Linked DNA regions of Homo sapiens. The protein of the gene in region 1 interacts with the protein of each later gene in a pairwise test. Each region holds a gene or a part of one and is shown in the gene's direction. Other genes may lie near its edges.

The links.
Region 2: the proteins of SH3GLB1 (region 1) and SYNCRIP interact in binary tests that used the Homo sapiens proteins (3 or more experiments, as listed by UniProt).
Region 3: the proteins of SH3GLB1 (region 1) and UBE2G1 interact in binary tests that used the Homo sapiens proteins (3 or more experiments, as listed by UniProt).
Region 4: the proteins of SH3GLB1 (region 1) and MAGEA8 interact in binary tests that used the Homo sapiens proteins (3 or more experiments, as listed by UniProt).
Region 5: the proteins of SH3GLB1 (region 1) and FUNDC1 interact in binary tests that used the Homo sapiens proteins (3 or more experiments, as listed by UniProt).
Region 6: the proteins of SH3GLB1 (region 1) and TRIM5 interact in binary tests that used the Homo sapiens proteins (3 or more experiments, as listed by UniProt).
Region 7: the proteins of SH3GLB1 (region 1) and CYBRD1 interact in binary tests that used the Homo sapiens proteins (3 or more experiments, as listed by UniProt).

The regions. Positions count from the first base shown.
Region 1 is NC_000001.11:86,717,387-86,721,834, forward strand, and holds part of SH3GLB1 (endophilin-B1), read left to right. Parts: intron 1-2,120; coding exon 2,121-2,249; intron 2,250-4,448. UniProt on the Homo sapiens protein: May be required for normal outer mitochondrial membrane dynamics. Required for coatomer-mediated retrograde transport in certain cells. May recruit other proteins to membranes with high curvature. May promote membrane fusion.
Region 2 is NC_000006.12:85,615,849-85,619,501, reverse strand, and holds part of SYNCRIP (heterogeneous nuclear ribonucleoprotein Q), read left to right. Parts: intron 1-84; coding exon 85-234; intron 235-562; coding exon 563-684; intron 685-3,653. UniProt on the Homo sapiens protein: Heterogenous nuclear ribonucleoprotein (hnRNP) implicated in mRNA processing mechanisms. Component of the CRD-mediated complex that promotes MYC mRNA stability.
Region 3 is NC_000017.11:4,289,794-4,294,241, reverse strand, and holds part of UBE2G1 (ubiquitin-conjugating enzyme E2 G1), read left to right. Parts: intron 1-4,448. UniProt on the Homo sapiens protein: Accepts ubiquitin from the E1 complex and catalyzes its covalent attachment to other proteins. In vitro catalyzes 'Lys-48'-, as well as 'Lys-63'-linked polyubiquitination. May be involved in degradation of muscle-specific proteins.
Region 4 is NC_000023.11:149,879,134-149,884,176, forward strand, and holds the start of MAGEA8 (melanoma-associated antigen 8), read left to right. Parts: upstream 1-2,049; 5' UTR 2,050-2,152; intron 2,153-3,234; exon of another isoform or gene 3,235-3,365; intron 3,366-3,937; exon of another isoform or gene 3,938-4,216; intron 4,217-4,688; exon of another isoform or gene 4,689-4,939; 5' UTR 4,940-5,001; intron 5,002-5,043. UniProt on the Homo sapiens protein: Not known, though may play a role in embryonal development and tumor transformation or aspects of tumor progression.
Region 5 is NC_000023.11:44,532,434-44,536,881, reverse strand, and holds part of FUNDC1 (FUN14 domain-containing protein 1), read left to right. Parts: intron 1-4,448. UniProt on the Homo sapiens protein: Integral mitochondrial outer-membrane protein that mediates the formation of mitochondria-associated endoplasmic reticulum membranes (MAMs).
Region 6 is NC_000011.10:5,678,232-5,682,679, reverse strand, and holds part of TRIM5 (tripartite motif-containing protein 5), read left to right. Parts: intron 1-2,441; 5' UTR 2,442-2,502; coding exon 2,503-2,919; intron 2,920-3,510; coding exon 3,511-3,606; intron 3,607-4,245; coding exon 4,246-4,448.
Region 7 is NC_000002.12:171,549,272-171,553,719, forward strand, and holds part of CYBRD1 (plasma membrane ascorbate-dependent reductase CYBRD1), read left to right. Parts: intron 1-4,074; coding exon 4,075-4,229; intron 4,230-4,448. UniProt on the Homo sapiens protein: Plasma membrane reductase that uses cytoplasmic ascorbate as an electron donor to reduce extracellular Fe(3+) into Fe(2+).

The DNA.
Region 1 (4,448 bases):
GTTTTTTGTTTGTGCTGTGGTTTTTTTGTTTTGTTTTGTTTTGTTTTGTTTGAGACAGAGTCTTGCTGTGTCACCCAGGCTGGAGTGCAGTGGTGTGATCTTGGTTCACTGCAACCTCCACCTCCTGGGTTCAAGCGATTTTCCTGCCTCTGCCTGCTGAGAGTAGCTGGGATTACAGGTGTCCACCACCATACCCGGCTAATTTTTGTATTTTTAGTAGAGACAGGGTTTCTCCATGTTGGCCAGGCTGGTCTCGAACTCCCGACCTCAGGTAATCTGCCCGCCTCAGCCTCCCAAAGCGCTGGGATTACACGTGTGAGCCACCATGCCCAGCCTGTGCTCTGGTTATTAAGTTACATAGGTTTTGAGCAGCCAAACCTAACACTCCTTTTCTTGTAATTCCTATGTTGTTTTCAATGTATGATCTTCTGGAAATGGGTTTTTCAAAAATACGTTATGCAGAAATACATATTACATTGTAGCAGAGTTGCCTGCATATTTAAGATTTTATTATAACCTATTGAAATTAAACATTTATTAGTATTCCAAATATTTTATTAACTGAACGAAGTCAGCATAAGATTCCATTTTAAACTTTTGGCCAGATAGGTGGAAAAGCAGTCAAAATTAAGAATCAGAGTCAAAACACAAAGCTGTTTTTTTTTTTTTTTGAGACAGAGTCTCACTCTTTCACCTGGGCTGGAGTGCAGTGGCACAATCTCTGCTTACTGCAAGATCTGCCTCCTGGGTTCAAGTGATTGTCCTGCCTCAGCTTCCCGAGTAGTTGGGATTACAGGCATGCGCTACCACACCTAGCTAATTTTTGTATTTTTTTTTTTAGTAGAGACGGGGTTTCACCATGTCAGCCAGGCTGGTCTCAAACTCCTGACATCAAGTGGTCTACCTGCCTTGGCCTCCCAAAGTGCTGGGATTACAGGCATGTACCACCACACCGGGCCAAAATGAAGTTCTGAAATTTAACTAGTATCTTCTAAATGGTTATGTTTTAAAAAGCTCTTTTTGGTTTTAACTATTTAAAGGTATTTAATTTCTGCTTTAAAACTTCTGATTTTGTACTAGAATCTACCACAAAAGCAAGTATCATTGCTATACTCTATTTTATGTATTATAACTAAGCCTTTTACCAACTCCTGAAATGTTTCTGTTACTGGTTCAGCTCATTTTTTAAATTTTCAGTGCACTGTGTGAAACTTCCGCATGCGTAGGAATCTATGTGAGGTACTTAGAGGGAACCTATTTGACTTAGCTTCAATTTATGCTTAATCGTTGTTTCTGGAAACTTAAGCCATTTTTTCACTTGTCCTGAAATACCTCTAGGTTGGACAGCATTGTAAATGTTAATATCTTTGGTCTTAAGCATTTTGCTAACCAAGTGTTTATTCAGCTTTTGTTTTTTTCCCCTTTCCATTTATTCTAATGTTCTATTATTGCTTTAACCTTTCGTATTTTAAACTTATTTTTAATGATGAAATCTTTTGAGTGAATGCATGCTCAGAGATATACTTGTATACTTTAAACATAAACTAAAGCCAAGGCATCATATTGCTGATCTGTCTGTAGACTATTCCAAGCCTGGATTGTTCTATGCCTTAAGCGCCTGTGTCTATATTTAGACTCTAGGCAAGAAAAAGAGAGAGCAAATGCTCATGCTAAAGCTGTCAGATGTAAGTCTTTGGTTCTTCCAGGTACTTTATATCTGTATTTTCCTAGCCAGAAATCCTGATTTTGAAATTATGAATGTACATTCAGAGTAAAAATTAGAGTTAAAATGCTACAAACAGGGCAAAGACACCTTCAATAAATATTAAGTGAATTAATCAGTCCTTTTCTGGAACTTAAAATCTTGTAGAATACTCAAATAATAATTTTATTTTATTTTAAAATGCTTTTGTGCCAAGATATTTTATCAAATTTCTAAAATATAATTTTTTAGTTATATAATAGTCTAACATAAAATTTAAAAAATTATTTATTAAGATATGTGCTTGAATGAATGCTAACTTTAGGAGATGATAAATGGCTGCTGATGGGGGAAAAAAACAATCTTCTAATTAGTTTTGCTTTTTAGAAATCATTGGTAATTTTAACCTTTCTCCTAGATGCCAGGATAGAAGAATTTGTTTATGAGAAACTGGATAGAAAAGCTCCAAGTCGTATAAACAACCCAGAACTTTTGGGACAATATATGATTGATGCAGGGACTGAGTTTGGCCCAGGAACAGCTTATGGTAAGTGAAATGCAAAAAGTTCTAATAAGGGATATCTTTATGTTTAGATTTATTAGAGATGTCATTAACATATTAGTAGGCCGGGTGCAGTGGCTCACACCTGTAATCCCAGCACTTTGGGTGGTTGAGGTGGGCGGATCATGAGGTCAGGAGATCGAGACTATCCTGGCTAACATGGTGAAACCCCGTCTCTACTAAAAATAACAAAAAATTAGCTGGGTGTGGTGGCAGACACCTGTAGTCCCAGCTACTTGGGAGGCTGAGGCAGGAGAATGGCGTGAACCTTGGACGTGGAGCTTGCAGTGAGCCAAGATCACACCACTGCACTCCAGCCTGGGCCACAGAACGAGACTCTGTCTCAAAAAAAAAAAAAAAAAAAAAACATAGTAGTAGAATTGGTTTTAACTTCAAATTTATGTTAAAAATTTTTGATGAAGTGAGAAATATAGGCAAATATATACAGTTAAATGTAATATTTAATATATTCAAGCATATATTTAGTTATTCAGAGAATTCACATCTTTTTTAGTTCTAAAAAGTTTAATGAATTCTTCACTTGTTCTCCCAGTGATCTTACAATACCTATGTTATAATACTTGTGATATTGCAATTATTGTTTGCATATGTCTCTTCATTTTTAAAAAAGCTTTCTTAGGGCTTATTTTATGTTAAAGGTACTTGGCACGTAGTTCTTGAACAAATCAGTGCTTTTGTTATAATTTTGCAGTAATGTCAGTAACCAAAAAATATTAACAATTGTTATCTCTGGATATTTGGATTACATTTCATTTCTGTTTTTCTCTTATGTATTTCAAATTTTCTATAGCCGTGGTTTAGTTACACTCGCTTTATTAGTTGCTGTACAGACTTTAAATGTATAGCCCTGAAGCTCAAAGTTACATACACATCTTTATTGTCACTCTAATTTTCTCATAACATGAGACTGTTACAGATTTCAGTAGCTTCTTTTCCTGTTGTTTATGTCTAATAATAATTCTCTTTATACATCTGCAAGATACTGGTCTTTGGATATGAAATGGTAGGTAGATTAAATTAATTTCTACACATAGTTCTGATTTACAGAATGGTTTATAAATTCTAGGATTAAATGAATTTTAAGCTTTAGTAGTTATCTTTATGTCAGAAAGAAATAACCTAAATATTGTTGAATGCCACTAATCCATTGACAGGCTTTTTTAGGTACACAACTTTGAAACTTCTACATTGTGTTCTTCAAAATCTAATTTTTAAGTTTGAAAATGCTTAGAACTTCAAAATAAAATTATTTCTGAATTTTACTGTTAATTTTTAGAAAAATGTTATACATTAAACAGATGTTTTATTGCCTACTTGTGCCAAGCTCAGTTAGATGCTGGGATCATAAAGGTATGTGAAAGGAACCCAGCAGCCCCTTCCTTCACCAGGCTGAAGAAGGTTTTAGCAGAGCATGAACATTAGTAAAGGCTTCTAGATTTTCTTCCCTTTTAAATCTGCTTAATCTGTTTGCACCTCTAGTAATTCTAGTGAATGTACCCTGGTTATTAGAATTGGGCTTTGTGAACCTATTACCTTATTAGTAATTAATACTAAAAATTGAGTATCACAGGCATGGGCTAAGCATTATATAGTATATATATTTACATATTAATTCTCATTTATATCCTGCTTTTAAGATAAATTATATTACCTTCATTTTAAAGACAAGGAAACAGGTTTGGAGAAGTTAAATAATTAATCCACAGTCACAGCTAGTATAGTAATTCAAATGAAGATCTGTCTGTATCCAGTGACGGAGCTCTTAACTACTATCTGTATTACCTTCCTTATCAGTCAGATCAAAGCTTATCCTAACATGAAGGGATTAAGATCCTTAGAGCTAAAGCTTATTAGAAGTAAAACTAGGAGTGGAACCCTGATCTTGGGGCTTCCTTTCTTTCTACTCTACTTTGTACTGTACTTGCCCTATTTAAGTATCAGAGTATATGTATTGCAAAAGCATGGATTTTTTAACTTAAGATATCACTATGAACTATTACTTATAGATACTTCAGATGATAACTGCAAGGATGTAGAAACAGGACAAATTGTGACTTGATCTCTTGGAAGCATTATACTTTTATAAGTATAACCACAGTCACCCCTCGATATCCATGGGGGATTGGATCCAGGCCCGCCACCCTGAGGATACCAAAATCCATG
Region 2 (3,653 bases), on another chromosome or scaffold:
AGTTAACTTTGTAGGGTGGGGTGGTGGTATCTTAGAAATGGAACTCTTTGGAAATAATACAGGGGGGTATTTTCTTCCCCCTAGGTAAAAGTGCTGTTTGTACGCAACCTTGCCAATACTGTAACAGAAGAGATTTTAGAAAAGGCATTTAGTCAGTTTGGGAAACTGGAACGAGTGAAGAAGTTAAAAGATTATGCGTTCATTCATTTTGATGAGCGAGATGGTGCTGTCAAGGTAAATATGGTGGAATTACAGGCATCTAAATCAGACTAACAAATTTAGTCATTTTAGAATCTCAAAATAGTTTTACAAATTGGAGGAGACTTTGGAAGTCCATGGAATCCATTCAAACTAAAACCTTTTGGTTTTAGTGATGTTGGCAGTTTTCTAAGTAAAAATGAAAAATAATTGAATATCTGCATCTTTAAATAAAATTATTTGACTGCCTGCATGGGGCTTTCTCTTGTCCTTCCCACATTAATGATAAATGATATTCCAACTTTAAATGAATCATAATTGTATGAAAGTCCTATTTTTATATTGACTTATCTAATTTTTTAAGGCTATGGAAGAAATGAATGGCAAAGACTTGGAGGGAGAAAATATTGAAATTGTTTTTGCCAAGCCACCAGATCAGAAAAGGAAAGAAAGAAAAGCTCAGAGGCAAGCAGCAAAAAATCAAATGTGAGTGAAATTTGTATACTTAAAAATTGTATAAATTTTAATATTTATACACTAATTGGAAAATAACAGGTGTTGATCAGACTTGTTAAATGCATAACATCTCTTTAAAGAAGACTTGAACGTTTGAGAGTCATAGGGAAACACCAGTGATCTAAGTGTTTATTGAACTCTTACTATGAACCATATTTGTGAAAATAATCAGAATTGTAAATAACTGGAATTTTGGTAAATTGGCAAGATGAAAAATCTGTCTAGCTTTTTTTTTGTTTTGTATTGGGTGACAGAGTCTCACTTTGTCACTCAGGCTGGAGTGCAGTGGCACTCTTTCGGCTCACTGGAACCTCCACCTCCCGGGTTCAAGAGATTCTCCTGCCTCAGTCTTCTGAGTAGCTGGGTTACAGGCGCCACCATGCCTGGTAATTTTTGTGTTTTTTTTTTTAGTAGGGGTGGGGTTTCGTCATGTTGGCCAGGTTGGTCTCAAACTCCTGACCTCAGGTGATCCGCCCACCTCTGCCTCCCAAAGTGCTGGGATTACAGCTGTGAGCCACCATGCCTGGCCTATCTCACATATTTTCTTTGTATTTTACAGAATGTTCTTCTGAAAATGTCTTAAATATTAGCTGTCCAAATATCTTAATACATTTTGTTAAAGGGTGGAGAGTTTTTTCTCTGAGAGATAGGAAATACTAAATCTCTATTCATGATAGACTGTTTCTTCACCAGTAGTGCTCATTGCCACCCCAAAAATTTCATGTTCGATGGATGGATTTTGAAAATGAAATGAGTATTAAAATTATAACACAGTAGTGCAATAAGAAAACAAGTAGGTGTGTAATGAGTTATACTAATTAGGGAGACCTTTTTAGAGAATCTGTAAATAGGTATCTGCTTAAGACTGAAGGAAACTTAGTTGGGTAAGAATTGAAGTTAGCTCCTAAAAAGTTAGTTACTGATTTCCTAGAAGAGGGGTAATTGTTCTTGAATGTGAGAGCAATAATCACTGTCAATACTATTCAAGGTTAATTTTCTGTTGATTGCCCTGTTTGGAATTTAAAGGAAGAGGATGCTTCTACATATTTCTGTTACTTCATAATCAGGGAATTGATCAAGTTCTAGTTTCTGCAGTTAATTGTCCAGTTGGACAAGTTGGCAAGCTCTGAACCTCAATTTCTTCAGTTCTAAAATGGGATCAGACAAAATTATGTAATAGCTCTGGATTATGTGATTATCCAAGTGACCCATGCTTGTTCTGGGACCAAAGAAAATATACTTTGTAGGTTTGATGATAGTGTAAATGAAGGAAGACTACAAAAAGAGTTAGTTTTAATGCTCTATATTTCAAACACCTGGATATACTAAACAGTGTAAAATAACTTCTTTTTATTTCTTTCAGAAGACGATATATGGTTAATTTATTAAAGTAGAATGTAAGTATAGGAGATTATATTAGATAATGTGATTAGAGCAGTTACATTTGGTACTTGATAGAGGGAGATACTAAATAGAAGGTGGAGGATGTCAGTATATCTGTTAATATTTGAAAAGGAGTACAAACTAAAAGGGATGATTGCATGTTACTTTCGTACTTTAACTTGCTACAGTCTTTTTTTTTTTTTTTTTAAGTTTTAACTAAGCACGTATTCCTACATAATTCTCACTGTATTCCTGTGAGTTAGGTACTCTATCCCTTAGTTTGAAATGAGGAAACTGAGGCTCAGAAGTCAACTTCCTTGGGGTCATTCACATAGTAAGTAGTGGAGTTGGATTTGAACTAAGGTAGTCTAGTCTCCCATAATTTTCCCTCTTAACCACTATACCAGGATTTCTCATCTCTGTCCTCCTGACATTTTGGGCTGGATAATTCTTGGTCTTGGGGGCTGCCCTGTGCGTTGTAGGACTTTTAGCAGCATCCTTGGCCTCTTCCTGCTAGATGCCAGTAGCACCCCCTTTCTCAGTTATGACCGTCTAAAATGTCCCCCTGGAAAGAGGTGGTGGCAAAATTATCCCTGGTGAGAACTATTTAGAAATAGAAAAGGATGATCTTTCCATCATTTCCTCAAAACAATAAACCAGCAGAGCACATAAAAGGTCTAAGGACCTAGTGAACCGGAATAACATTTTTACGTTAGTCAGTTGGAACAGGGGCCTTTAATAATTCAGGATAAAATAAGGCCGGGCGTGGTGGCTCATGCCTGTAATCCCACCACTTTGGGAGGCTGAGGTGGGCAGATCACTCTAGGCCGAGGTGGGTGGATCATTCGAGGTTAGGAGTTCGAGACCAGCCTGGCCAACATGGTGAAACCCCATCTCTACTAAAAATAAAAATTGGCTAGGTATGGTGGCACATGCCTATAGTCCCAGCTACTCGAGAGGCTGTGGCAGGAGAATCACTTGAACCCAGGAGGTGGAGGTTGCAGTGAGGTGAGATTGCGCCACTGCATTGCAGCCTGGGTGACAGAGCAAGACTGTGTCTCAAATAAATAAATAAATAAAATAACATAACAGGTACGGAATAAAAAACACGAGTAAATTATTCCTTCAAGAGGGATTAATTTCCATATTTCATGGGATTATTGGGCTCAAAATAATCACTAAGTTTTAAGGAATTGTATAAAATTGTACTGTAGGGAACATGAGTTGGAATATTGTAACTTCGTTTAGTCCTTTTACATAGTATGTAAGCATATGCTGATTTGTGTGGTTGCTTTCTAATCACTTTGACAACTAAAGTTATACCTGTTTAGTGGTTAAAGTTCAGCACTATAGTTACGGTGTAGTTTATTTTTGGGAAAGTAGCAGATCTTTTAAATTTTACTTGGATAGCATTATTGTAGAAACAGGAAAACTTTAAGGTCTTTATGCTAATTTACTGTAGTAAACTTTGAACTTCACACATTTTGGTTGTGTGCTTGTCCTACTTGCCATTTTGCTTTTGTAATAAATGTTCTTCAAGTATATTGGAATAGAAT
Region 3 (4,448 bases), on another chromosome or scaffold:
GTTTCACCATGTTGGACAGGCTGGTCTTGAACTCCTGACCTCATGTGATCTGTCTGCCTCAGCCTCCCAAAGTGCTGGGATTATAGGCGTGAGCCACGCGCCTGGTCTTAGATGGAATTTTGAATGAAGATGATGCTTGGCTTGAACTTCATTCTTTAGGCTGTGAGGACTCATTTAATTCATGACATTTAAAGCTGTACATATTGTCATGACAAAAAGAGAAAATGACAAAAAATAAAAAAGCTATGTAATAGGTTTCTCTTATATTTTCCTTCTTGAAAGATTACACTCATAGAAGATTGGAAGGGGAAGTCAGAGAGATAGCAGGGAGGTAGAGCATTTTAGCAATAATTTGAGTAAAAAACAATAAAAACTTGAACTAAGAATAGTGTTGCAGGAAGGGTAATTTAGTTTCTTTGACTTGACTGCCAGAGGTGAATGGTAAAGGAGAAGTAAGAGTTTAGGATTGACTGGCCATTTACAAAAATAATTATAGAGTGAAAACCATAATGAAATACCACTTTTTACCCACTAGGATTCCTATAATCAAAAAGATAATAACAAATGTCAATGAGGAAGTAGAGAAATTAGAACTCCCATGCACTACTGGCAAGAAGGTAAATGGTGCGGGTGTTTGGAGAAGAGCCTGGCAGTCCTCAAAAGGTTAAGCATAGTTACCATAGGACCCTGCACTTCCATCCTAGGAACCTAACCAAGAAAACTGAAACACATGTCCAGAAAAACTCGAACACGAGTGTTCACAGCAGCATTTATTATTCATAACAGCCAAAAAGTAGAAACAGCCCAAATGTCTATCAGCTGATAAATAGAAAAACAAAATGTGGACCCATATAACGGAATATTATTTGGCAATAAAAAGAAATGAATTACATGATATTGTTTTCTAAAGAAAAGAAAGAAATGAAGTAGTGATACTTGCTACAACATAGATGAACCTTGGAAACATTATATTAAGTGAACAAAGTCAGTCGTAAAAGGTGACATAGTGTACGATTCCCTTTATATGAAATGTCAAGAATAGACAAATCCATAGAGACCGAAAGTAGGTTAGTGGTTCCCTACTGCTGGAGGGGAGGTGGGGGGGATTGAGGAATGGTTGCTAACTGGTACTGCGTTTCATTGTAGGGTGAAAAAATACTCTAAAATTGATTGTGGTATTGATTGTACAACTCTGTAGACATACTAGACAGAAACCATTAAATCGTGCTTTTCAAATAGGTGAATTGTATAGTAGGTGAGTTATAGAGATGTTATAAAATTATTATAGGGGAATAGTTTTATGTGACTGACCTTACATATATTCAGCTTTTCTTGAGGTATACTTGCTACACCCAGTTAGATAATTAGTTAAACCAGTCCAGGGTTCAGCAATGAGCTTAAGGGCCTTGGAAGTTACTGTATCAGGATGATAGATAACATGATAATGAATGGGTTAGTTTTCCTACGGAAAATATAGTTAATGTTGGAGATTAGGATAACATCAAAAGTCAAATTAAGGAAAATGAAAACTAGAAAGTGACTGAGAGAATGTTCAAGAACCAGGGGAAAACAAGAGTACCACAGATGCCAGGGGAGGAAAATGTATCCAGCAAAGTGTTGTCACAGTATTAGTTGTCTTGGCCCAGAGGGGTGACTTCAGGTAGCTGAAAGTACCCAGGAGAATAAATATGCTATCCAGACCACTTGTGGACACAGTTGTAGCATCCTGCTAGGGAGAAGCCAGTTTCTAGGAGAATAAAGGAATACCTGAGTAGTAAGTAAATAGAGAAGATGAGGGTAAATCAGTTTTTCAGAATTTTAGGTGCATGGCCTCAAGAAAAAGGAGGTAGCTAGAAGTATATGCATTGTTTAGGCAGCTTAGTTTTGTTTGTTTGGTTTTGGTTTGGGTTTTTTTTTTTTTTTTTTTGAGACAGAGTCTCACTCTGTCGCCCAGGCTGGAGTGCAGTGGCTCACTGCAACCTCCGCCTCCCAGGTTCAAGCAATTCACCTGCCTCAGCCTCCCGAGTAGCTGGGATTACAGGTGCGTGCCACCAAGCCCGGCTAATTCTTGTATTTTTATTAGAGATGGGTTCACCATGTTGGCCAGGCTGGTCTCGACCTCAGGTGATCCGCCCGCCTCAGCCTCCCAAAGTGCTGGGATTACAGGCCAGCCATACATTACAGTGGGCCGAGCCACTGTGCCCGGCCCAGGTAGCTTAGTTTCATCTCTAATGAACACTGAAATGAAAGAAAAAAGTAACAAGCAAAAATTATATGGGGAAAACTAAGAAACACCGTGGCAAGAGGAAAGTAAACATTAAGTACATAACTGGCTAAAGGATAAGAACAGACATTTCACAAAAGAGGAAGGACATACAGGTTATATCCATGGAAAGTTGTCACCCCAAAAGCATTTAGAAAAGTGAATTAAACCAGATGTTATATATGAAATTTAAACAGCATCAATAAAGGAAAATGTTCATCCTGAGGAGGCAATGAAATGGCCATCTCAGATTGCTGATGGCAGTATAAATTGATACAATCCTTTAAAATATGGTTTGATAATAGGTATTAAGCCTAAAAATCTTCTCATTCTAAAATAAATGGTATGTTTAAAATGACATGAGAAGGTTAAAAATGTAAAGATCCTGGATTAGTGATAACTTGATTTTTTTTAAAAAGGAAAATGGATCTTATATAGTGGTGGTAGAATTCTGTACACATATTTAATAGCATGTTTTTAAAGAAAAATGACTTGGAAAAAATCCTTATTACACAGTAAGTACAGAAAACATTGTAAAATAGTAATACTCTATGAAATTTTTATGCTGAATTTTGTAGTGTTACAAGTTTTGATGTTATTCCTTTTTTTTTTTTTTTTTTGAGATGGAGTTTCGCCCGTTGCCCAGGCTAGACTGCAGTGGTGTGATGTTGGCTCATGGCAACCTCTGCCTCCCGGCTTCAAGCAATTCTCCTGCCCCAGCCTCCCAAGTAGCTGGGATTACAGGCATGTGCCACAACAGCCAGCTAATTTTGTATTTTTAGTAGAGATGGGATTTCTCCATGTTGGCCAGGCTGGCCTCAAACTCCTGACCGCAGGTGATCTGCCCTCCTCGGCCTCCCAAACTGTTGGGATTACAGGCGTGAGCCACCACGCCCGGCCCTCGGTGTTATTCTGGCCCTGATTCTATTTTAGTAAATAGATTTTACTAGCAGATAGGGATGGGTTGGGAAGAGGAACCTTAATTATAGAAAACCTCATACATAAAACATTGAAGGCACGGGCCTTGCCTGTCATATATTCACTGCTGTACTTCTCTGTCAGATGTGTGCCTGGCATGCAGTAGGCATTGAAAAAGTATTTGTCGGCCAGCGCAGGGGCTGTTTCCTGTAATCCCAGTTTGGGACCAGCCTGGGCAATATAGTAAGACTATATCTCTACCAAAAAAAAAAAAAAAAAAAGCCAGGAATGGTGCCATGTGCCTATGGTCCCAACTACTTGGGAGGCTGAGGTGGGAGGATCACTAGAGCCCAGGAGTTTGAGACCAGCCTGGGCAACATAGTGAGACCCCCATCTCTACCAAAAAAAAAAAAAAAGTCAGGTTAGCCAGGCATCATGCCATGTGCCCATGGTCCCAGCTACTTGGAGGGCTGAGGCAGGAGGATCGTTTGAGCCTGGGAGGTCAAGGCTGCATAGAGCTGTGATCATACCACTACACTCCAGCCTGGGTGACAAAGTGAGGCCCTGTCTCAAAAAACCAAAACAGCAACAACAGACAACACCAAAAAATAAGAATTTGTTGAATTAAGAGAGCAATGATATTGATTGGTAGATACAAACTTTGATTCTGATTACCCAGAGTTCATAACAGCAGAAATACTGATGTTATGAAACGAAAAATAAGATTTAGCATTATATTTATTCACAAATTTGTTAGACTATATAGGATAAGTTAGGAATGAAATATACATAAACATTGTCACTACTCAAATTCCTTTCTAAAATTTCTTCCTCAAAGTATGATTTTTAAAAAAATTTACGGTGGGTAAATGTTACCATAAAAGATTAGTTTCACAATAGGGATTATTTATATGATGTATAAATGAATTAGTGGATTAGGACCTTTTTTTAATGAATAAGTAATATTTTACTTTTTTGCTAAACTGCTTAAATAGTTATGTCAATACATGTCTCCTAAAAATAAGGATGTTTTCTTATTAAATGTGTTTATAGAAAGGAGGCCTCTTGAGTGTCGTATATGTTGATGAGTTTTCATTGGCAGTATGGCATGTTTGTTTTGTGAATTTGAATATACTCCTTTCTCAGAAAATACAATTTTGGCTTTATATGATTGTAAAAATATATTTCTTAGGAATAGTCTCTGGGCCTTTGACTATTACCAATTTAAGTCGGTAAGTTAGTGGGGAAACTAGGAGGCCATTACATA
Region 4 (5,043 bases), on another chromosome or scaffold:
GCAGCTCGTATGCAAGGAATAAAAATACAGAAAAAGCCTCTGAAATGAATTTTATCATATTTTCAAATTAACATTTTTAGCAAATGAAGATTAAAAGGCACTTTAATTTTCTAAAACTGACAGGAAACATACTTGAATGTGAAATGTTAGAAGCATTCCCATTCTCGTCAGGAGCAAGTCATTGATGTATGCTTTCACTGCTACCGTTCACAGCTGCAGTGAATGCTGAAATGAAAAAGAGAGCTATGGATATCAAGATGAAAAAGAGGTATGAAGATTGAAAAGAAATAGATCATATTTTTCACAATATGACCATCAAGAAAATTCAAAGGAAGAGACACATGGAACATTCAAATGAATAAGAGACTTCAGAAGACAGCATACAAAGACCACTGCAGCGAATACAAGAGACTTGTCACAGATGAGCAACTTAGAACATAAAATGAAAAATATACCATCCCCAACAGCATTTAAATCCAAAATATAAAGAAGAAGAAGCCTAACCAAAATATGCAAGACATTTACAGAAGCAACTGTACAAGTTTGCTGACAGATTCAGAGAAAAAATTCCCAAATAAATGGAGTAGTATATGATGTTCACTGATGAGGAATAGAATACAGCAAAGGTGTAAATCTTACTTAAATTAAATAAACAGTTAATGCCTACCTGTAGCTGCCAAAGTGACAATCAAGCCCAGGCTGCTGTGCTCTACTCCCAAAATCAACTGTGTAAAAATATAGAAGGGAAAAAGAAAAATAAAACAACAATATCAGCAACAAAGTCTAAACAACAAAACATAGAAAACCCTGGGGAAAAAACTGTGTTGAACTGGTACTTGTGTTCTGGGCAGTTGGAGAGGCAGGGAGGTTGAGGAGGTCTGCAGCCACTGCAGACGACAGGGTGAGTTGCAGGAAAAGTTTTAAAGGACCACCCCACATCAATGTAGGATCCGAGTCTGCACCTCAAAACACGAAGCCAGTAGCCCAGGGGTAATATCAGGACACCAGGAAAATTGGATTGATTGAGACACCATGGCTCCAGAATTCTGCTAATAACAACTAGAAACAAAGAGTAGGTTAGGACTACCTTCCAAAATACTATTATTTTAATCAAATATATATAATGAACTAGAAATAGAATAGTATGAGTGAATCACACATTGTATGAGTAGATATTGTTTGATAAAATAAGTACGTATAGTCGACATACATATATGTATAAATATATGTAAAGATATATACACATACATTCATATAATTACACATATATAATATAAACATATACATACATATGTGTTTATGCATATAAACATAAATATAATGCACATATACAATTGGCATAGATTTAAAATTCGTTTCTTACTATACGAATGCGAATTAAATTATGAAAATCACTAAAGTGGAATAGGAATTGTTAGGTAACTTCAAAACTCAGGACTTCCACAAATTTATTGCAGCTACTCAGTTTCTTCAGTGTAAAAATAAATCATTTAGTACAAAAGTTTTGCAAAATCCTCTTCTAGCTGGGGAAGAGCCCCCGTGGGAAGGTGTGCCTCTTCTCCCAGAGGTCACTACAATCTTAGGTGCTGCAAACCCACAGGGAGAATCTGGCCTGGGACCCGCAGCCATTCTCTGCAAGGGGTGCAGCTGTGCAAATGCTCAGAGGTGACAGAAACAGAGTATCTCCTAAAAGAGCCAAGAGTCAAGAAGAGGACCCTCCTGAGTGAGGACTGAGGGTCCACCCACACCACATAGAGGGGCCACATAATTCAGCTCAGACCCTCATGTCAGCCCTGAAAGACCCCAGCAGCCTTGTCCCCCCACCACACCCTTCCCCCCACTGCCACCTCAGGGGACTCGGAATCAGAACCTTGGTCTGAGGGAAGCAGACACCATCAGCAGAGTACGGAGCTCCAGGCTCTGCCAGATCTCAAAGTGAGAACCTTGAGGGATGACTGAACCGCTCCTCCCTCATCCCCCGCCCCACTAGAATCCGGTTCCGCCCCTGTTGTCCACCCAGGTGAGCCCTGGGTGGACGGATGTGACGCCACTGACGTGGCCGCGGGGATCAGAGAGAAGCGAGGGCCTGGTTCTGAGGGGTCGGCTTGAGATCGGCTGAGGGAAGCGGGCTCAGGGTCTGTGAGGAGGCAAGGTGAGACCCTGAGGGAGGACTGAGGAGGCCCCCACCCCTCATATAGGACCCAAAATAATCTAGCGCCGCCCCTGCTGCCAGCCCTGGACCACCAGGGGGCAGACTTGTCTGGCTGGGCCACCCCTCGCCAGCCCTGCGCTTAAGCCCCAGGGGAATCTGGAGTGAGAGCTTGGTGTGACCAGAGCAGGGCTGGTTAGCAGAGGGCAGGGCCCAGGTTCTGCCAGGCATCAAGGGCAGGACCCTGAGGGAGGGCTGAGGCTCCACAGAGCACATCTCTGCCCCTACTGTCAGCCCTGGGAAGCCCTAGGCATGGCGGCCGGGCATGGCGGCCGGGCATGGCGGCCGGGCATGGCGGCCGGGCATGGCGGCCGGGCATGGCGGCCGGGCTCGCTGATTCTGACGTCCGCATCCGGGGCTGATGCAGCAAAGGGGCTTCATGAGCACGGACTCAAGAGGAGCAGAGGGAGGGCCCAGGCTATGCTGGGAGATGAGGAGGCCCGAGGGGACCCAGGACCCCAGGACAGGGGGCCCACCCTACCTGTCTGAGACTGAGGGGCCTCCACATTTGGCCTCAGGAATCCGAGGGACTGAAACTCAAGTCAGCAGGGGGGTGGTGAACAGCCCTGCCAGGAGTCAAGGAGAAGAAGAAGAGGGAGGACTCAGGGGTCCTTGGACTCCAGATCAGTGGAGATCTCAGCCTTGGGAAGTCCCAGGATCTGTGGCTGCATGTGGCGCATCCTTGCTGCATTTTCAGGGTGTCAGAAAGGAGACAGCTGTGGTCTGAGGAGTGGAGTCTCAGATCACTGGAGAGAGGTGCCCCAGAGCCCTTAAGGAGGACTCAGCAGACCTCCCATCATGGCCTAGGAAACCTGCTCCCACTCTCAGGTCTGGGCACCCAAGGCAGGACAGTGGGGAAGGGATGTGGCCCCCCCACTTTCTGGTAGGGGGCCTCAAGGAGATGGTGGCCTTGGCATGCAAGACACATCCACGGTTCAGCAGGAAGGAAAGGGCCATGCCTTGTCGTGGAGTAAATATGAATACCTGGATGACACCCAGACAGAGAAAGACCCCATGAAACCTACTACTTCTGTCAGCCGTGGGAATCCCATGCAGGGTTGTCCATGTAGTGCCTCCTTACTTCTGCCTCCTGGGTCTCAGGGAGGTAGCAACCTGGGTCTGAAGGGCGTCCTCAGCTCAGCAGAGGGAGCCACACCTGTTCAACAGAGGGACGGGGTCACAGGATCTGCAGGACCCAAGATGTGCTCACTTTGTGATGAATGGGGGTACTCCTGGCCTGGAAAGAAGGGACCCCACAAAGTCTGGCTAACTTTGGTTATTATCTCTGGGGGAACCCGATCAAGGGTGGCCCTAAGTGGAGATCTCATCTGTACTGTGGGCAGGAAGTTGGGGAAACGCAGGAAGATAAGGTCTTGGTGGTAAGGGGAGATGTCTGCTCATATCAGGGTGTTGTGGGTTGAGGAAGGGCGGGCTCCATCAGGGGAAAGATGAATAACCCCCTGAAGACCTTAGAACCCACCACTCAAGAACAAGTAGGGACAGATCCTAGTGTCACCCCTGGACACCCCACCCAGTGGTCATCAGATGTGGTGGCTCCTCATTTCTCTCTTGAGATCTCAGGGAAGTGAGGACCTTGTTCTCAGAGGGCAACTCAGGACAAAACAGGGACCCCCATGTGGGCAACAGACTCAGTGGTCCAAGAATCTACCAAGAGTCTAGGTGACAACACTGAGGGAAGATTGAGGGTACCCTCGATGGTTCTCCTAGCAGGCAAAAAACAGATGGGGGCCCAACAGAAATCTGCCCGGCCTCTTTTGTCACCCCTGAGAGCATGAGCAGGACTATCAGCTGAGGCCCCTGTGTTATACCAGACTCATTGGTCTCAGGGAGAAGAAGGCCTTGGTCTGAGGGCACTGCATTCAGGTCAGCAGAGCGGGGGTCCAAGGCCCTGCCAGGAGTCAGGGACTCAGAGGACACCACTCACCAAACACACAGGACCGAACCCCACCCTGCACCTTCTGTCAGCCATGGGAAGTGCAGGGAAAGGTGGGTGGATGGAATCCCCTCATTTGCTCTTCCAGTGTCTCCTGGAGATAGGTCCTTGGATTAAGGAAGTGGCCTCAGGTCAGCCCAGGACACATGGGCCCCAATGTATTTTGTGTAGCTATTGCTTTTTTCTCACCCTAGGACAGGACACGTGGGCCCCATTGCATTTTGTGTAGCTATTGCTTTTTTCCCAGGAGGCCTTGGGCATGTGGGGCCAGATGTGGGTCCCTTCATATCCTTGTCTTCCATATCAGGGATATAAACTCTTGATCTGAAAGTTTCTCAGGCCAGCAAAAGGGCCAGATCCAGGCCCTGCCAGGAGAAAGATGAGGGCCCTGAATGAGCACAGAAAGGACCATCCACACAAAATAGTGGGGAGCTCACAGAGTCAGGCTCACCCTCCTGACAGCACTGGGGTGCTGGGGCTGTGCTTGCAGTCTGCAGCCTGAGTTCCCCTCGATTTATCTTCTAGGAGCTCCAGGAACCAGGCTGTGAGGTCTTGGTCTGAGGCAGTATCTTCAATCACAGAGCATAAGAGGCCCAGGCAGTAGTAGCAGTCAAGCTGAGGTGGTGTTTCCCCTGTATGTATACCAGAGGCCCCTCTGGCATCAGAACAGCAGGAACCCCACAGTTCCTGGCCCTACCAGCCCTTTTGTCAGTCCTGGAGCCTTGGCCTTTGCCAGGAGGCTGCACCCTGAGATGCCCTCTCAATTTCTCCTTCAGGTTCGCAGAGAACAGGCCAGCCAGGAGGTCAGGAGGCCCCAGAGAAGCACTGAAGAAGACCTGTAAGTAGACCTTTGTTAGGGCATCCAGGGTGTAGTACCCAG
Region 5 (4,448 bases), on another chromosome or scaffold:
ATTACACTGCCATCTTAAAGTACACAGTCTCTTCGTTTTAATTTTTTGGAGTTATACATCCTTATAATTCAAAGGGCCAAGTACTTGTGCAAGGCTTGTTACAGATTAGAGTAATCCTCCACCTCTCTCACTACCCCCATTTTTCCATCCCTTGAGACATCCAGTTTGCACTCTTAACTGATTCTTAAGGTAGTAATCTCTTTTTCCCTAAACAAGTTAATTGGACATTTCTTGATCTTTCAGTTTTAGGTGTGAACTATTGGCTTCCCATTATGGAATGGGAAAATTTAGCTGTCATTTATTGACCTGTTTTGTTTTCCCTATACTTCCCCAAATCTCACATACCTGAATGCTTTCTTCCCTCTCCCTCAATCGTCTGAGTGTAGTTACTTCCCTTTTTTCATAATTGTGTTAGATCATTCATTATATGGAGTTCACTGAGATTGATTACTTGGAGTTCACTGAACTTCTTGAGCCTGTGAATTTATGTCTTTAATCATGTTTGGGAAGGTTTTGGCCATTATTTCTACTAGGAAGTTTGGGATTTTTTTTTTTTTTTTTTCGAGACAGAGTCTCGCTCTGTCGCCCAGGCTAGAGTGCAGTGGCGCAATCTTGGCTCACTGCAACTTCCACCTCCCGGATTCAAGTGATTTTCCTGCCTCAGCCTCCCAAGTAGCTGGGATTATAGACTACAGCTGCCTGCCACAGCACCCCGCTAATTTTTGTATTTTTAGTAGAGATGGGGTTTCACCATCTTGGCCAGGCTGGTCTAGAACTCTTGACCTATTGATCCACCCGCCTCGGCCTCCCAAAGTGCTGGGATTACAGGATTACAGGCGTGAGCCACCACGGGCGGCCGGGATTATTTCTTTTCTTCTTCTTTTTTTTTTTTTTTAGACAAGAGTTTTGCTCATGTTGCCTAGGTTGGAGTGCAATGGCACAATCTCGGCTCACTGCAACCTCCGCCTCCTGGGTTCAAGCGATTCTCTTTCCTCAGCCTCCGAAGTAGCTGGGATTACAGGCACCTGCCACCATGCCTGGCTAATTTTTGTATTTTTAGTAGAGATGGGGTTTCACCATGTTGGCCAGGCTGGTCTCGAACTCCTGACCTCAGGCGATCCACCCGCCTTGGCCTCCCAAAGTGCTGGGATTACAGGCGTGAGCCACCGCGCCCAGCCAGGATTCTTTCTTTTTTTTTTTTTTTTTTTTTTTGAGACAGAGTCTTGCTCTGTCACCCAGGCTGGAGTGCAGTGGTGCGATCTCAGCTCACTGCAAGCTCCGCCTCCCAGGGTCACGCCACTCTCCTGCCTCGGCCTCTCAAGTAGCTGGGACAACAGGCGCCCGCCACCAAGCCCGGCTAACTTTTTTGTATTTTTTTGGTAGAGACAGGGTTTTGCTCTGTTAGCCAGGATGATCTCGATCTCCTGACCTCATGATCTGCCCGCCTCGGCCTCCCAAAGTTCTGGGATTACAGGTGTGAGCCACCGCACCTGGCCCAGTATTATTTCTTTAGACAACTACTAGTTGTGTAAATCACCTTTCATTGTCGTATGTATCAAATAGTTCATCAGTTTAACCGTCTGGGCAAACTTGGTCCCAGAGTCATCTGTCCTGTTTGCTTTCTAGGCCTGGTATACGGCTCTCACCCTGGGATCTCTCTTCAATACCTTCTGGATATTCCCTTTTTGTTTTGGGTTGTTTCTTGTATGTTATGTCTTTTGTTTGTTTGTTTGTTTTTTGAGACAGTCTTGCTCTGTTGCCCAGGCTAGAGTGCAGTGGTACAATCTCACTCACTACAAACTCTGCCTCCTGGGCTCAAGGGATCCTCCTGCCTCAGCCTCCCAAGTAGCTGGGATTACAGGCGTGTGCCACATGCCCGCTAATTTTTGTATTTTTGTATAATAGGGAGGTCTTGCTATGTTGCCCAGGCTGGTCTCGAACTCCTGGGCTCAAGCATTCCACCCGCCTTGGCCTCCCAAAGTGTTGGGATTACAGGTGTAAGCCACTGCACCTGGCCTATCCTATGTCTTGATGTATTCTCTTGTTTTGGTGGACACATCCTCCAATAGCTTTCGTAGAAAATGAGAATGGGAACTATAGTTTTTGAGACTTTGCATGTCTGAAAATTTCTTCATTTTATCCTCACATTTGTTTGATAATTTATTAATAGCTGTGTTTAGGTATTGCTCCATTGTCTTCTGACTTCCAGTGTTGCTGTTAAAAGTTTAAAGTAATTCTAATTTCTGAACCTTTACATGTGTGGGTTTTTTTTTTTCCTTTCAGTTAATGCTTATAGGATTTTCTTTTGTCCTCAGTATTCTGATTTTTCCCAGTGATGTGCCTTACTGTGGGCCTATTTTCATCCACTGTGCTGGAAACTCAAGGGGCCCTTTCAGTTTGGGGAAATTTTCTTTATATTTATTTAGTTAATGATATCCTGCTCTTTAATTTTCCCATCTTTTTTTCTGTAGTTCCAGTTATATGGATCTCCTGGACCAGTTGTCTAATTTTTCTTTCTTTATTTATTTTACAGTTTTAGACTTATTTTTAATTTTTTTTAAATAGAGATGAGGTCTTGCTATGTTGCCCAGGCTGGTCTCAAGCAATCCTCCTGCCTTGGCCTCCCAAAATGTTGGGATTACAGGTGTGAGCCACTGACTGCTTGGCCTAATAATTTTTTTTTTTTCTTTCTTAGATTTGGTAGAACACTAATAATCTTTTCAATTTTCCACTTCTATCTTTTTGGTCTATTTTCTGGGAGATTTCTTCAACTTCAACAAGTTTTTTTTGTTGTTTTTGTTTTTTGTTTTTTTTTTGAGACAGAGTCTCACTCTGTTCACCTGGGCTGGAGTGCAGTGGTGCGATCTTGGCTCACTGCAGCCTTGACCTCCCGGGCTCAGGTGATTTCTTCACGCCAGCCTCCCAAGTAGCTGGGACTACAGGCATGCACCACCATGCCTGGCTAATTTTTTGTATTTTTAGTAGAGATGGAGTTTTGCTATGTTGCCCAGGCTGGTCTTGAACTCCTGAGCTCAAGCGATCCACCCACCTCGGTCTCCCAAAGTGCTGGGATTACAAATGTGAGCCACCATGCCCGGCTGTTGTTCTTTTAATGTGACTTTAGCATTCTGTTTCTTGCTTTTCCTTCATGGATGCAGTGAGCAGTATCTTTTTTAAAAATTTTTAATGGCTAATACTTGGATACTATTTTTTTGTTGTTGTTGTTTTGTTGTTTTTTTTTTTTTTTTTTTTTTGAGACGGAGTCTTGCTCTGTCACCCAGGCTGGAGTGCAGTGGCACGATCTCGGCTCACTGCAAGCTCTGCCTCCCGGGTTTGCACCATTCTCCTGCCTCAGCCTCCCGAGTAGCTGGGACTACAGGCGCCTGCCACCACACCCAGCTAATTTTTGTATTTTTAGTAGAGACAGGGTTTCATTGTGTTAGCCAGGATGGTCTCGATCTCCTGACCTCATGATCTGCCTGCCTCGGCCTCCCAAAGTGCTGGGATTGCAGGCGTGAGCCACTGCGCCTGGCCTTGGATACTGTTTTTTTAAGAGATTGGTGGGATGTATTTATTATGTGTGACTTGTCCTCCTCCAACCCATTGTTTCAACCAATGCAATGGTTAGAAGACCGTCCCTTCAATAAGACTTTTAGAAACACATCATATTACTGGAGCACTAACATTCTTGGAAACCATTTTAATTGCATGTCTATAGACCAAGAAGGCTTGTGAGAGATGGTATAGTTGAATGTCTTCTCTAATTCGAAGATAGAAGCTTCTTAGAAAGTGGCAGAGACTGAAAGTTTTCCTTAGATCACCAGATGCTAGTTGGAAGTGACTGCCTTAATAGACTGCAGGTTCAGAGTGTTGATCCAAATAGTCTGTCCTACAAGCAATTCTTAGCATCTACACAGAATGTTCATCTAGCAGTTTATTTTTTCAGCTTTACAAACAACTCTGCAGTGACTAGCCATTTATATACAGCTTTGCACACTTGTCTAAGACAAAGCAAAAATATACATATTTAGGCCAGGCATGGTGGCTCACGCCTGTAATCCCAGCACTTTGGGAGGCCGAGGCGGGCGGATCGCCTGAGGTCAGAAGTTCGAGACAAGCCTGGCCAACAAGGTGAAACCCCATCTCTACTAAAAGTACAAAATTAGCCGGGCATGGTGGTGCATGCCTGTAATCCCAGCTACTCGGGAGGCTGAGGCAGGAGGATCATTTGAACCTGGGAGGCAGAGGTTGCAGTGAGCCGAGATCATGTCATTGCACGCCAGCCTGGGTGACAAAAGCGAAACTCCGTCTCAAAAAAAAAAAATATATATATATATACACACACACACACATATATATATTTAAGCCTCTTGATTGTCAAGTAGCCTTCCAGAAAGTATTCCTACTATCCCCATATGAGAGGATCCACCAGCTTTTCCCCCTTTTCA
Region 6 (4,448 bases), on another chromosome or scaffold:
TTAATGATCTAAAGGCAATTAGGGATTGTCAGTTCCAGTATATACGCTGGTTCGGGGGTCTAATTTCCCCCTTGGATCTGGTCAGGGGTCAAGATCTGGACCATGCTGGGCAGTCTGGCTTCTTCTTAAGCAACTTTGTCTATACATAAAGGGAATAAAGAAAAACGTTAAGAAAAATAACTTTCCCAGTCATTTCATCAGGGCTTCCCTGGTGACAGCATCTGTTTGCCTCTACTAGGGCACCAAGTCCAGACTCAGGGAACTACTGGATTTTCTTAAAAATCATTAACCTTGCTCCTCCCTCTCCGTGGGCCGTATCTGCCCCCCAAAAGCAGAGCTTAGGTGAGATACGAAGAGCAGGAGAAGCATGTGGAAAGAATACCCAAGTAGCTGGGATTACAGGCACCTGTCACCAAGCTCAGCTCATTTTGTATTTTTAGTAGAGACAGAATTTCACCATGTTGGCCAGGCTGGTCTTGAACTCCCAGCCTCAGGTGATCCGCCTGCCTTGGCCTCCCAAAGTACTAGGATTACAAGCGTGAGCCACCACACCCGTCTGGTTAAGTTAAATATTAAAAGCTGAAGCCGGGCACGGTGGCTCACGCCTGTAATCCCAGCACTTTAGGAGGCCGAGGCAGGTGGATCACAAGGTCAGGAGTTGGAGACCAGACTGGCCAATATGGTGAAACCCCATCTGTACCAAAAATACAAAAATTAGCCGGGTGTGGTGGTGCGTGCCTGTGGTCCCAGCTGCTCGGGAGGCTGGGGCAGAGGAGTCACTGGAACCTGGGAGGCAGAGGTTGTGGTGAGCCGAGATTGTGCCATTGCACTCCAGCCTGGGCGACAGAGCAAGACTCCGTCTCAAAAAAGAAAAAAAAATATTAAAAGCTGATAGAGCCAGTGCCCTTATACAAAGGCTGGAATGTAACAGAAGCCCACTGAGAGTTTTGCCCAGGCCTTTCCTGGGCCTTGAAGCATGACAAGATAACGAAGGAATCGATTAGGACCTGTTTAGGATTAAACAAGTTTTATGGGGGTCTGAAGGAACTCCCAGGCCTCCACAAACAAGTTTATTGAGGGTCTGAAGGAACTCCGCAAACCTTAATGATTTAGCAGGAGAGACAAGATAAGGGTAATCACCCCAGCACCCGGACCCATCTAGATTAGGTAAATTTACTGAGGCACCAGAGGAAGGTCTTAAAACTCAGACCTTAGTTATAGATTTGAAGAAGTTAATCACTTATGTTTTTAGATGAATAATGCACACCTATACGTAGACGTATAGCTTAGAAGGTATATAAGCTCTGGAAAACTTTGTAATTTTGAGTTGGTCTGGAGATATTTTCTAGGCCTTCTCCCTGTACGCAGAAATAAAAATTCGCTTCTTTCCCAGTAAATCTGCATCTCGTTATTGGGCCGCAAGAAGCAGCAGCCGACCCTCCGTTTGTTCCGGGAACAGAATCATCTCATCTAATATTTTGAGACTTCTCTCTCAAGACTGATATCCACTGCCTCTGTGCTTCTAGTTTTCAAGTATCCAACATGTGTGGTCCACTGAGTATTTCTCTATCATCACCCTCTACACCATGTCTACACCTTTAGGCTCCAATAAATGTCCTTGGCAAACTTTCAGGATGAGACTCCTCAGAACCTCCCAGCTGTTGTGGATTCCTCTACTTCCACACCCCAATTGCTCTGGGTATTAATTGGATATATGCTGTTATCTCCATTTGTCATTGATTAACCAAAAGAGTAGCAAAGAGGCCAGTGAAAGAGGACCCTGAATACGAGGTCATCTCAGGTCACCATACTGAAGATAAATAATTTTTGTAAATCACTTATTATGTCTATTTATACATTTGATGAAACAGTCATTCACTCTGCTGATAATAAGAGCAATCATTGCAAACGTACAGTGCATGGTGAGATTTGTTACACTGCACATAAGGTAGTCAGAGCAGGTATTTTTGATAATATAACATGTAAGGAGAGAATTTAATAAAATCGTACTAACATCAGAGAAACATTTCATGCTGAGAGAAGAGCAAATGTGAAAGCCCTGAGGCATAAGCTGTTTGGTGATTTTAATACTGAGGATGTGTTTTGGCGTGGGAAAGAAAAGCCAGGAGAGATGATGGGTCACACAAAGATCTTGGTAGAAAAGACCTCAGTCTGTTTTCTATTCATTGAAAGTAAAGAAAAATGATAACCAATGCACAGATAAGAACAGAATTTGTCATATGACATGAACTGGCAGTAAAGTATTTAAGGTGATTATGAAAAGCCCTTATTACCAGGTAACCAAACACCTTTTCTTATTTCTCCCCTTTTTTTGTCCTTAATTATTTTCATCTTGCCCATTTTCTAATTGTGCACAATCAATATCCTTTCTATTTCTACCTTTCTTACTTGGTCCCATTTTAACCTTCCCAATCATGCAGGGATCTGTGAACAAGAGGAACCTCAGCAGCCAGGACAGGCAGGAGCAGTGGAATAGCTACTATGGCTTCTGGAATCCTGGTTAATGTAAAGGAGGAGGTGACCTGCCCCATCTGCCTGGAACTCCTGACACAACCCCTGAGCCTGGACTGCGGCCACAGCTTCTGCCAAGCATGCCTCACTGCAAACCACAAGAAGTCCATGCTAGACAAAGGAGAGAGTAGCTGCCCTGTGTGCCGGATCAGTTACCAGCCTGAGAACATACGGCCTAATCGGCATGTAGCCAACATAGTGGAGAAGCTCAGGGAGGTCAAGTTGAGCCCAGAGGGGCAGAAAGTTGATCATTGTGCACGCCATGGAGAGAAACTTCTACTCTTCTGTCAGGAGGACGGGAAGGTCATTTGCTGGCTTTGTGAGCGGTCTCAGGAGCACCGTGGTCACCACACGTTCCTCACAGAGGAGGTTGCCCGGGAGTACCAAGTAAGAGACTGGGATGGAAGGAAGAGAGGGCAGAAAATGGGACCAGATGGAAAATTTTCACTTTGCCTTTGACATTAACTGCCTTGTCATGATAGACCTGAGACCCGGGATTATTTTTTTCATGCTATGCTTAACTTCTGAGGCTTTAAGGATGGTTTTTTGCATTTCACCCAATTACAGGAGAATAATCCTAGAGTATATATTCCTGGCCGGGAGTAAATATTTTGTACCTTGGGTTAGATGGGTAGAGATTTGGTGTCCAAGAAAAGCTCTGATTACCCCTTTCAGCAGGAGAGTAACAGGAGTGGGTTGAGATGTAAGTTTTTTCCTTGCTGCAGGATTAGTTTTTTCTTCTAGGACAAAAAGAATCAGTCTACTCATGGTGAGGAGATGGGGAGGTCTATTACCTGAGATGTAGGGAGCACATTCACCAATGTAAGTTTTCTTCCAAGTCATGGATTCTCATTGCCATTCTCACAGTTTCTGCAAATTTGTTTCTTCTGAGATCAACCTGATTTATTTCATGTTTATACTCTATCTAGGTGCTGGAAAACCTCATAGCTTGACTATGGTGTGATTCCTTTCTCACAGGTGAAGCTCCAGGCAGCTCTGGAGATGCTGAGGCAGAAGCAGCAGGAAGCTGAAGAGTTAGAAGCTGACATCAGAGAAGAGAAAGCTTCCTGGAAGGCAAGAGGATGTGGTTCCCGAAGGAGTTAGCTAGAAATCTGGGCAGGACCAGGGGAAGGAGCTTTCTTCCTCTTTATTCCCTGACATTTGATAAGTCCAGAAGTCATTTGATTAGTCCTCTTCATCCTTTCCCTGATGGGGTGTGGTGGCTGAGGAGTGAATATGTCACAGTGAACACAGTAGGGAGCTCTTTACATGAAGGATCTCTCTGGTGAGGATGGCTAGTGAATCCTGCATTCTATTTTTGTGCTACTTTTTGAGTCCGTGACTCTACTTGGGGAAGACATTTGGCAATGGCTCATGATTCTGTCCTCAGTGTTCAACTTTTGGCAGGGAGTTTGAGCTTGGGCTGAGAAGTAATACAGGCAGGCATGAGTGTCCTGCATAGCTGTGTGAAAGGTAAGCTACATCCAGGTAACCCATTTTGATGCAGGATGAACCTCAATATACCCATTCAAGGTCATTGTTTTAAAATGTCATGAAGGAAAAGAAATAGGAAAAGGCAGCTTTCCTAAGACCTACTCTCCTGCTACTATGTCCCCTCCTTGTGAGAACTCCCCAAAAGAAACAGCTCCTTTTCTGGCTAACAGCCTCTGCCTGGTAGACTGAGTGCCCCTTTCTCTTCTCTTATCTCTGAAGACTCAAATACAGTATGACAAAACCAACGTCTTGGCAGATTTTGAGCAACTGAGAGACATCCTGGACTGGGAGGAGAGCAATGAGCTGCAAAACCTGGAGAAGGAGGAGGAAGACATTCTGAAAAGCCTTACGAACTCTGAAACTGAGATGGTGCAGCAGACCCAGTCCCTGAGAGAGCTCATCTCAGATCTGGAGCATCGGCT
Region 7 (4,448 bases), on another chromosome or scaffold:
AGGTGCTTCACCATGATGTCCAGGCTGGTCTCAAATTCCTGGCCTCAAGTGATCCACCCACCTCGGCCTCCCAAAGTGCTGGAATGGCAGACATGAGCCACTGTGCCCAGCCAACATGGAAACTTTAAAAGTAAACTTTTATTGTCTATTTCTAATTATAAAAGTAATACACATTAATGTTAAAGTTTATAAGATGTAGAAAGATATAAAGAAAAAACCCTGGCTATTCTGGGCACACTGCCTGTGGGGTATTCCTGTTCCACAAGGAGTAGAACCTCTGCTGCTGCTACAAATTAAATAAAAAAACAAAAAATGAAAAAACCCACTGATACTGCCATAATCTAGAGATATCATTAGCTTTTGGCTTATTCCCTTTAGGCTTTTATTATGCCTATGCAAATGTAGATATAGATATTTAATTTTTAAACATAATTGGGTCATACTGTATTTTCACTTTCATCTCTAAGTAATAACTTTTTATGAAAGTTTATTTTTCCTTAGCTCTTAAGAACTTCCACTGTGTTGAAGAACAGCTTCCTGTAGGTGATGATTCCTAAACACTGGGGCACTTTGTTTGCATATAGTTGGCATTTAGTGTGTTTGTAGACTATATATAATGGAATATTCCACTACCTTCTCTTTTGAGGGTTTTCCAGACTGTTTATCCATATCTCTAGAATAATTTGAGTGAATCAACAGCAGTCATTTTCAAACTTCAACATACGTAAGAATCGTCTGGGCAGTTTGTTAAAAATACAGATTCCTGGGCCCTAATCCAGAAATTGGATTTAGCAGGTCAGAATGTGGCCCAGGCATCTTTTTATTTTTTATTTTTTTGTTGTTGTTGTTTTTGTTCTTGAGACAGAGCTTTGCTCTGTCACCCAGGCTGAAGTGCACAATGTCAGCTCACTGCAACCTCCGCCATCCGGGTTCAAGCAATTCTCTTGCTTCAGCCTCCAGAGTAGCTGGGACTACAGGCATGTGCCACCATGCCTGGCTAGTTTTTGTATTTTTAGTAGAGATGGGGTTTTGACATGTTGGCCAGGCTGGTCTTAAAATCCTGATCTCAAGTGATCCTCCTGCCTCGGCCTCCCAAAGTGCTGGGATTACAGCAGGCATCCCTTTAAATGCATGCCTTCTGTGAACAGCACTTCCAGTACTGACTTAGAGAGACAAAAGGTCTTATAATTTTCGGTCCACTAGGTTATAAATTATCACCTTCACTTGTAAGGTAGTAAGATTAAGATAGTTAAAAGGAAATAATGATTATTTATAAATTATAAGTTATTATAAATTATAAATATGCATTATTGCAGCATTCAGAACACTTTTAATCAAAGTTAAGCATTCTGTAATGTTTTTCTTTTCCTTTTAAATGTAATTTTCTTTTGTTGCAAAAAATGTTTAATGGTGAAAGTCAGATTTAGGGTAGTTAAGTTGCTCAGGGATCCTGTAAGCAAATTTCTGACCTCCTACCTGCTTAGACTGTTGAGCCCTACAGGATTGTAAGAGACACACATGACAAATTATGGAGGAAATGAGAGAAAACAGAAAGAATCTTAGGAATGAAAATAGGAGAGCAGGAATGAGAAATATATGTTTCTATGGGTAAGCCACAGAAAAGATATGATGATTTATGGAGATATATTTGTGCTATATCCCTGAGCCCCATTTTCTTTTCCTTTCTTTTCTTTTTTCTTTCTTAGACAGGGTCTCACTCTGTCACCCAGGCTGGAGTGCAATGGCACAATCTCAGCTCACTGCAACCTCCATCTCCAGGACTCAAGCAATCCTCCTGCCTCAGCATCCACAGTAGCTGGGACCACAGACGTGCACCACCATGCCCAGCTAATTTTTTGTAGAGATGGGGTTTCGCCATGTTGCCCGGGCTTGTCTTGAACTCCTGGACTCAAGTGATCTTCCCACCTTGGCCTCCCAAAGTGCTGGGATTACAGGCGTGAGGCACCACACTCAGCCCCCATTTTCATATAGAAAGCACAACATGGACATCAGGAAGCTTGCCCTTTGATACTAATAGAATCACTGAAGTTCACTGAAGAAGATTTAGGAATATTCTGAACCACCAAGAGGGAACCCTCTGAACCATTTCTAATATATTCAGGCATTTTGGTTATTAACTAAATAATAAAATATGCAAACCAACCTATCAAATGCATTTGTTATTACTTTTTAAATATAAATTACAGAATTTATTGTATTAGGATATACTTCAGAAAACAACAGTTAATCTTGGCTATTCTTGGCCCTTTGATCTATGTAAATTTTAGAATCAATGCATCAAATTCCACCAAAAATCTATTAGGATTTTATTTAATCTATAGATGAATTTGAGAACCGACATCTGTATAATACAAGTCTTCCAACTCATTATCCTGAGCCTGTTTTTTTAGCCTTCTCCAAAATATTGCAAAGCTTTATATTTTCTTTGTAGAGTTGTTGTCTCCAACTTATTGCTAGCTCCTTGCTATTAAAAATGGTATCATTAAAAATTAATTCACTTGTTGCCTCTTTACAAAAAGTGCAACTGATCTCAAGTATAAATTTATACCTAGCAAACTTGATAAACTTATGTTAGTAATTAATCTCAAGATTCTTTTGGATTGTGTTTTATAATCTTATGTGATTAATAAGTTTTGTTTCTTTTTCTATCATCATTTTTTTTTCTTGCTTAACTCAGTAGCTGAGACTTTCAGAAAAATGCTGAATAGGAATAGGTGATAAGGGATATAAGACAAATCCCTTCTAGATCTGAGTCATGTCTTGGAAGAGAGCTACTCTGAAATGCCTATAGACCATAAGCAGACTGTGTGTGAGCAAGAAATATACTTTTATATGTTAAGCTCTTGAAAATGGAGCCTGTTAGTTCCTATAGCATGTTCTGTCCTAATATAATCAGATTAAAATAATCATCTTCCATTCCTAGTTTGTTAAAACATCTCATACATGACTGTTGAATCCTACCAATGTTTTTCACCATCTGTTTTGATGATTATATGATTTTTCCTCTGCAGTCTGTTAAAGTGACAAATCATACAAATTGTTTTGTTATCAGTTTCCATTTATTACTACTTGGTATTACACATGAGCTGATTCTCAGTGTGAATTAGGGCGTTGGACCCCTCCCCCTGCCTCCCTTCTTCTGTCTCCCCATTAGCCCTTGGATCTCAATCAAGAAAGCTGAACAGTGATGTTAGTGCTTTCTCCCCACTCTCCTCTCTTTTCATAATTGTTTTGCTAGGATGGTAGATCCTAAATAGGCATCTGAAAAAAAATGTTCCTTTAAACTCAGTAATTCAGTAACCACAAAGTCATCTTTATCTTGTTGAAGAGAGGATACTTGATGGGCAAACGTGTGGGGTGACAAAACCGTGAAAGCGCAACAGACTTCAGTTTATATAGGAACCTTGCTGTCTTCTCTGCAAAGAGGTATCCCACTAGCGATTTCATTATCAAGGAAATGAAGACACCTTTTCTGCAGAATTCATTTCTTTCTCATAAAACAAAAATCAACTTCATTCCACATAGCTTTTTAGGTTGAACTGACTAAATTCTGTGTCCTAATGTACTCGGTTTTAGTGATTTAAAAAATCTTTTCCTTCCCTTCCTACTTAGCAACCTTAGGAGATTGGTAAAAACAAACAAGTAAGTACCAGAATGTTCACTATAGTCGGATTAAGGATAGCAAAAACCAAACAGAAACATCCATAGAGAACTGTATAAATAAATTGTTATAGCCTTAGGATATTAGCCATTAAAAGGAATAAATTAGGTAAATGTATAGGTATGAAAAAGATTTCCAAGATATTCTGTTAAGGGAAAAAAGCAAGATGCAGAACAATATGTATAGGGATAATAAATTTTCTGGAATGATCCATGAGAAGGTGATAAAAGGGGTTACATTAGGTAGTGGAACTGGAGCGAGGAAACTTCATTTTCTACCCTTTGGTTCTATATGAAAGGTTTTGTCATATTACACATATTGCTTTTTAAATAATTTAAAATTAGTTTAGAACTTAAAATTAAATGATAACCTTTGCACTTTTTGGTGTTTAGCTTCTTTCAGGTTTTTCAGTCTTTCTGCTTCCATGGGCTCCGCTTTCTCTCCGAGCATTTCTCATGCCCATACATGTTTATTCTGGAATTGTCATCTTTGGAACAGTGATTGCAACAGCACTTATGGGATTGACAGAGAAACTGATTTTTTCCCTGTAAGTTGCATAGTCTTCTTAATTGTAATACTTAAGCCACAAAATGTTAAATACTTGTTCACTGGGAAAATGTAATAAAAATATAACAAAATTTTTTAGATATTAAAATTAAAAAATATTTTAAAGAATTTGTTATATCATATAGGTAATATGATATTACTAAAAGTTTAGAAGGACCAAAAAGTCTGACAAATTGTATTACTCTTATGAAACAACTAT